Regions from separate parts of the Homo sapiens genome. Here region 2 is reported to be linked to region 1. Evidence: microRNA targets listed by miRTarBase, many of them from high-throughput screens and not tested one by one. Region 1 holds a microRNA gene; the other region holds the end of a gene's coding sequence.

Region 1 (3,093 bases):
TAGAGCCCCGAAAGGGCGAGGAGTTGGAGGAGGAGTGGACGCCTACGGAGAAAGTCAGTAAGTGGGGGGCACAAGGGGGTGAGGGTGGGGGCCACAGGATGGGGGTGCTGGGACAAGTGACTGGCCCAATGTCACAAACAGGACCCAGGTCCCCGGAACCCTTTCCTACTCAGATTCTTGGGACCCAGAAGGGAGGGGCCCCGGGAGCCCAGGATAGCCTCGCTTGGCTGCCCCAGCCCTGGACCCCAGGCTGGCCTGCTTCAGGAGGGTGGCAGCTCCCCAGGGCCCCTAGTGGCTGGGCGTGGTAGGGGGAGGACCTGGGGCCTTGGTGGGGAGTGAGGACCTCAGGTACCTTCACAGGTATCCCTGCAGGGCCATTGTGCAGACGGTCCCCATCTGGATGACATCTGTGGCTGCGCCCTGGGGGAGCTCTACCTGTGATTTCACGTGTGTCCCCTGAGAGCTGGGCATGGTCAGCCCGTTCTCCAGATGGGGCAGCTGAGGCCCAGGGAGGGGAAGCACAGGCTGGGATTGGAAACAGCTCCTGGCCTGGCTTTGAGTCGATTCCAGGTGGGCTGGTGCAGGGCACCAGGGAGCCACCAGCTGACCAGAGCTGCCCTCTGACTGTGCCCCCGATGTGCCGGGAGTGGGCTCTGGGCTCCTTGGTTCTGGGTTTGGTGGAGGGAAGGATGGAGCTAGTGAGCCACCATTCTGGGGTACGCGTCCTCAGAGTGTCCCCCCATTGGGATGGAGTCACACCGTATTGAGGACAACCAGATCCGAGCCTCCTCCATGCTGCGCCACGGCCTGGGGGCACAGCGCGGCCGGCTCAACATGCAGGTGGGCATTGGGATGGGCCCATCTCCCAACTGGGATAAGGGACTCCTCCGCCCATGCTCAGCCTCCCCTGCCCCCTGGACAGACCGGTGCCACTGAGGACGACTACTATGATGGTGCGTGGTGTGCCGAGGACGATGCCAGGACCCAGTGGATAGAGGTGGACACCAGGAGGACTACCCGGTTCACAGGCGTCATCACCCAGGGCAGAGACTCCAGCATCCAGTGCGTGGCCAGGCTCATGGATAGTTGGCAGAGGGGAGTGGCTACATAGGCATGGCTCTGTGTCCCATTAAGGAGATTCCAGTGGGCCCTTCTTTGGCCCAGCCAAAGAAGGCCAAAAAGATCAGTGAGGGACTCACCCTGCCCATCCCCACTCCTCAGCCTGGTCAGTCAGCCCCTGTGTCCTGATAGCACATGAGTTTAGGGACAGATCACCTGCCCATGGCTATGTGACGGGCATAGGACCCAGGCTCAACACCTGGGCCGTGCAGCACCACCCTGCTAGCTCTTAAATTCTTGGGGCTCGGAAGAGGGAGGCTCAGGCCACCTGAGGGCCTGGGAGGGGGAAGACCCTTGCTCTGACCACTGTCCACTCCACAGTGACGATTTTGTGACCACCTTCTTCGTGGGCTTCAGCAATGACAGCCAGACATGGGTGATGTACACCAACGGCTATGAGGAAATGGTGGGCACCATGCCCAGGCTCTTGGCTCTGCTCCCATTGTCTGGGCGAGGGGTGGGCTCTCAGAGGGGCTGGCAGTACTGCTCTGAGGCCTGCCTCTCCCCAGACCTTTCATGGGAACGTGGACAAGGACACACCCGTGCTGAGTGAGCTCCCAGAGCCGGTGGTGGCTCGTTTCATCCGCATCTACCCACTCACCTGGAATGGCAGCCTGTGCATGCGCCTGGAGGTGCTGGGGTGCTCTGTGGCCCGTGAGTGTGGAGGGCTGGCAGGGGCTCTGAGTGGAGGTGGGGTGCTAGGGTGGGCCAGCCGGCACCCAGCTAAAGACAACCCCGCCTCCCTTGCAGCTGTCTACAGCTACTACGCACAGAATGAGGTGGTGGCCACCGATGACCTGGATTTCCGGCACCACAGCTACAAGGACATGCGCCAGGTTGGGAGCATATATCCTGGGGCTGGGGGTGGGACCTGTCTGTGGCTGACGGGAGTGTGTGCCTGGTGCTTCTGTCACTGGGCCCAGTCCCTACTGGTTCCAGGGATGCTGGCTGTCCCTCACCTTAGGAAGGAGGCCAGTACCTGGGGGCTGCGTGAAGGGGTCATGCCCGTCCCTCGCCATAGAGCAGGCCCTGGAAGTGGAAGGGGCATGGTCAGCGGGGGACGGATTGCATGATTGATTCCACGTCCTCCCCCTCTGCCCCAGCTCATGAAGGTGGTGAACGAGGAGTGCCCCACCATCACCCGCACTTACAGCCTGGGCAAGAGCTCACGAGGCCTCAAGATCTATGCCATGGAGATCTCAGACAACCCTGGGGAGCATGAACTGGGTGAGGGTCTGTGGGGGCCAGCAGCTGGCCTCTGCTGCTGATGTGCAGAGCTCACTGCCTCCCGCCTGTTCCGGAGCCTCTCTGGGGATTCTGGCTTGTCTTACAGGGCCCTAGGAGCCCCAGCTGTCCCCCAGACCCTCGGGTATGAGGTGGGTCTGGGTCCTTCCTCAGCTGCCCTGGGCCTCGGGAGACTGAGTGCTCACTGAGGCTCCCGCCCTTGCAGGGGAGCCCGAGTTCCGCTACACTGCTGGGATCCATGGCAACGAGGTGCTGGGCCGAGAGCTGTTGCTGCTGCTCATGCAGTACCTGTGCCGAGAGTACCGCGATGGGAACCCACGTGTGCGCAGCCTGGTGCAGGACACACGCATCCACCTGGTGCCCTCACTGAACCCTGATGGCTACGAGGTGGCAGCGCAGATGGTGGGTTGAAGGGTGAGGCTGGCCAGGGTCCAGGCAGCTGGGGGTTGTGGGGGTGTGGGTAGCCGATGCCTACCCTGCTGGCTCCCCACAGGGCTCAGAGTTTGGGAACTGGGCGCTGGGACTGTGGACTGAGGAGGGCTTTGACATCTTTGAAGATTTCCCGGATCTCAACTCTGTGCTCTGGGGAGCTGAGGAGAGGAAATGGGTCCCCTACCGGGTCCCCAACAATAACTTGCCCATCCCTGAACGCTACCTTTCGCCAGATGCCACGGTGAGGCTACAGCCTGGCTGAAAGGGCAGGAGGGAGCAGCTGGACCCTGGGGTCCT
Region 2 (3,093 bases), not on the chromosome of region 1:
GTATTTTTTTAGTAGAGACGGGGTTTCACTGTGTTAGCCAGGATGGTCTTGATCTCCTGACCTCGAGATCCGCCTGCCTTGGCCTCCCAAAGTGCTGGGATTACAGGCGTGAGCCACCACGCCCAGCCACCACCAAGTGTCTTTGGGGCCTTGGGGGCCATAATATCCCTGAGAACCACAGTTGTCCAAATCCTCCTTGGAACGTAGGTTTTCATCCTTGGGCCTGGGGCTATGGTAGAAAGACCTATTGTTAAAAAGACACTAAACGAGGCAGATGTCAGGGCATGTGAGATCCCTGCTTCTGCCAGCACGCTTTGCTGTATGCAGCCCTATTTTGGTGGTCTTTGCTGATACCCTAACAGCGTGCCTTTTGGGACTCCCCAATACTGTGGCACTGCACCTTTTTTCCTGTGAAATACACCCAGTGTTTCTCTCTTGCAGCTGAGAGCAATGATGGCTACCACATCATCCTGAAATGTGGACTCTGAGCAGCAGTGGACCTCATACCTGTCTCCAGCTCCCAGCCCTGTGGATCCCCGTGGATGTAGACATTGCCCCACTGTAAGCTGTGGCCTCACCAGGCAAGCTGAGGCCAGGAGGGACCCTGCCCAGTCTGTGAAAGCTACAGAGCACCAACCAGCAGAAGCCTGTGGACACCAAGTACGGTGTACAGAAAGCCAGTGGCTCCTTTCTCCCTTCCTCTTGGCCTCCAGATTTTGAATGGTTCCTTGTTCTTTTCTATTGGTCCAACCCTGACGTTCTAAAAGGGCAAACAGTGGAGACGTCTGCTCTGAAATCCCTCATCCCTTAGTTGGAAGCTGATTGGGTATCTTGGTGCTGCCTGTATTGGTCCCTTCTGACCACTCTCCTGCCTCCAGAGAAAGCTCTGCTTCACCCTGGAAGCTGGTACCTTTACCTCCTCCTCTGGGAGTTGGCTGCATGGCCAGCACTGCCGACTTGATGGGAGCAGTTTGCCCTCATTCTCCTGTTTCAGGTTTGCTTCCCTTCTCAGTGACCCTGGTGAGCATCCGCCTTTCCTGTTCTTGGATGAATTGATGGGAGTGGGGCTATTCTGTGCCTTCTACCTCTTTCTTCTCTACGTTGTTTCTAAGGATCTGCTGCTGCGGAACCCAAAGATGTGCTCCTGTCTCTGCACTGGCGCATTGGCATGGTAGATGCCACAATGTATGTGCACGGCCTTTCTCAGAGACATTAGTTCTGAGGCCCTTTGTGGGGAGGTTAGGGGGATGGTAATAGAAAAAGACTATTTTATTTCCTGGCAATCACGGGTAAGGAGGATTAGGAATGAGTATTCCATTCCTAGGTGTCATCAGATGACCTTGACCACCACAATACCAGGCCCTCTTGGATGGACTTATAGAAAGTTAGAGAAGACCTTGTTGAACCGCTGCTAAACTTGCCACAGGAGCGATGTGTTTTCTCTGAGTGCCCCTCACTTACATGTTTATCTTTGTTTGTAGAGGCTATGTTTAGGATATTTTGCCTGCATCAGAATGGGTGCATCATCTTTCTTAATGGCCTAACTATCGGGAAATTTGAGTGTCAGTAACTGTGGTAGACTCAGAAATTCGTCTTTGTCTTGCCTCTGGTTCCTGGGATCCAGTGATCTCTACTGGCCCAGGGCTTCAGCTCTTGGTTAATTTAGGTTCATGGGGAACCCTCTGACCACCTGAATGGGATGTCATAGCTTCTAAATGGAGCTTCTGTGGAATGAAGTGCTAGACTGAAGGACTACCAGAATAAAACAGGGTCTACAATGGGGAGAACTTGTTTTATAGATGAGGAAACCAAGGCTCAGAGGGGCAAAGTCACCTGCATGGTAGCACATAGTGATAGGGTAGCGATATAAATTTATCATATAAACCAGGACATCTCGGAATAAAAGGGGCTCTGTTAGTCATTATGTTGGGTAATAGCCGTGGCATTCCTACAGAACAGAGTGAGGACAGGCTCCTGATTCCTCTTCCTTCTTTAGAGGAGAAGCGGGGAGTGGGTTAACTAACAGCTTTATTGAGATGTCATTCACATGCCATTCAGTTTACCCATTGCTAGTGTCCAATTGTATTCACAGAACCACCATCAATTCACAGAATTACAGTCAACGTTGGTACATTTTCATCACCCCCAGTAAAACCCCGTACCCTTGGTCTGTCACTCCTGCTTTCCTAACTCCTGCAGTCCAAGGCAGCCATGAATCTACTTTCTATGTAAGATTAACCTACTCTGGACATTTCATATATCTGGAATCATGTGATATCTCTTTTGTGACTGGCTTCTTCCACTGAATGTTTTCTAGGGCCGTCCAAGTTGAGGATGTATCAGTACTTCATTCTTTTGTATTGCTGAATAATACTTCATTGTATAGATAGACCACATTTGTTTATTGATTCATCAGTTGATGGACATTTGTGTGTTTTTACTTTTTGGCTACTCTGAATGATGCTGCTATGAACATATTTCTACAAGATTTTGTGTGGACATATGTTTTCATTTCTTTTAGCAATATACATAGGAGTGGAATTGCTAGGTCTTACAGTAACTCCGTGTTTTAACTTTTTGAGAAACTGCCAGACTGTTTTCTATAGCAGCTGTACCATTTTACATTCCCACCAGCAATGTATCCAGGTTTCAATTTGTCTACATCCTCATCAACACTTGCTATTATCTGTCTTTTTGCTTTTAGCATCCTAATGAGTATGAAATGCTATCTTGTGGTTTTGATTTGCATTCCCCTGATGGCAACTGATGCTGAGTGTCTTTTCCTGTGCTTACGGGCCATGCGTATTTCTTTGGAGAAAGGTCTATCCAGGTCCTTTGCCTATTTTTAATTGAGTTGTCTTTTTTTTTTTAAGTTTTCTGTTTTCCTAACCACTAGACTACCAGGGATGAGCCTTCTTTTTATTATTGAGTTGGGTGAGCTATTTGTATATTCTAGACGCCAGTCTTTTATCAGGTATATGACTGGTAAAAATGTTCTCCCCTTCTGTGGATTGTTTTCAGTTTCTTGTTGGTGTCCTTTGAGACACAAAACTTTTTAACTTTGATGATTTCCAAGATACGTATTTTTTTTCT

Evidence for each region. Region 1 holds the annotated microRNA hsa-miR-4649-3p (UCUGAGGCCUGCCUCUCCCCA, at 1,607-1,627, shown strand). A microRNA usually pairs through its seed, bases 2 to 8, with sites in the 3' UTR of a target mRNA and lowers its output. Matches are read on the target gene's strand: a 7mer-m8 pairs with bases 2 to 8, a 7mer-A1 pairs with bases 2 to 7 and ends in A, and an 8mer does both.
Region 2: miRTarBase lists TFCP2L1 as a target of hsa-miR-4649-3p. The part of its 3' UTR that is shown has no 7-base or 8-base seed match.

What each region holds. Positions count from the first base shown.
Region 1 is chr7:44,109,285-44,112,377 of GRCh38, forward strand. MIR4649 (microRNA 4649) reads left to right here and starts at 1,565; the gene lies at 1,565-1,628. AEBP1 (AE binding protein 1) reads left to right here. Exons shown (of 21, transcript NM_001129.5): 9 at 4-57; 10 at 731-840; 11 at 923-1,062; 12 at 1,441-1,525; 13 at 1,629-1,773; 14 at 1,870-1,955; 15 at 2,223-2,346; 16 at 2,570-2,766; 17 at 2,858-3,037.
Region 2 is chr2:121,221,736-121,224,828 of GRCh38, reverse strand. TFCP2L1 (transcription factor CP2 like 1) reads left to right here. Exons shown (of 15, transcript NM_014553.3): 15 at 442-3,093. The coding sequence ends at 488. Among named protein-coding and RNA genes, the nearest start is that of TFCP2L1, 62 kb to the left of the region's middle.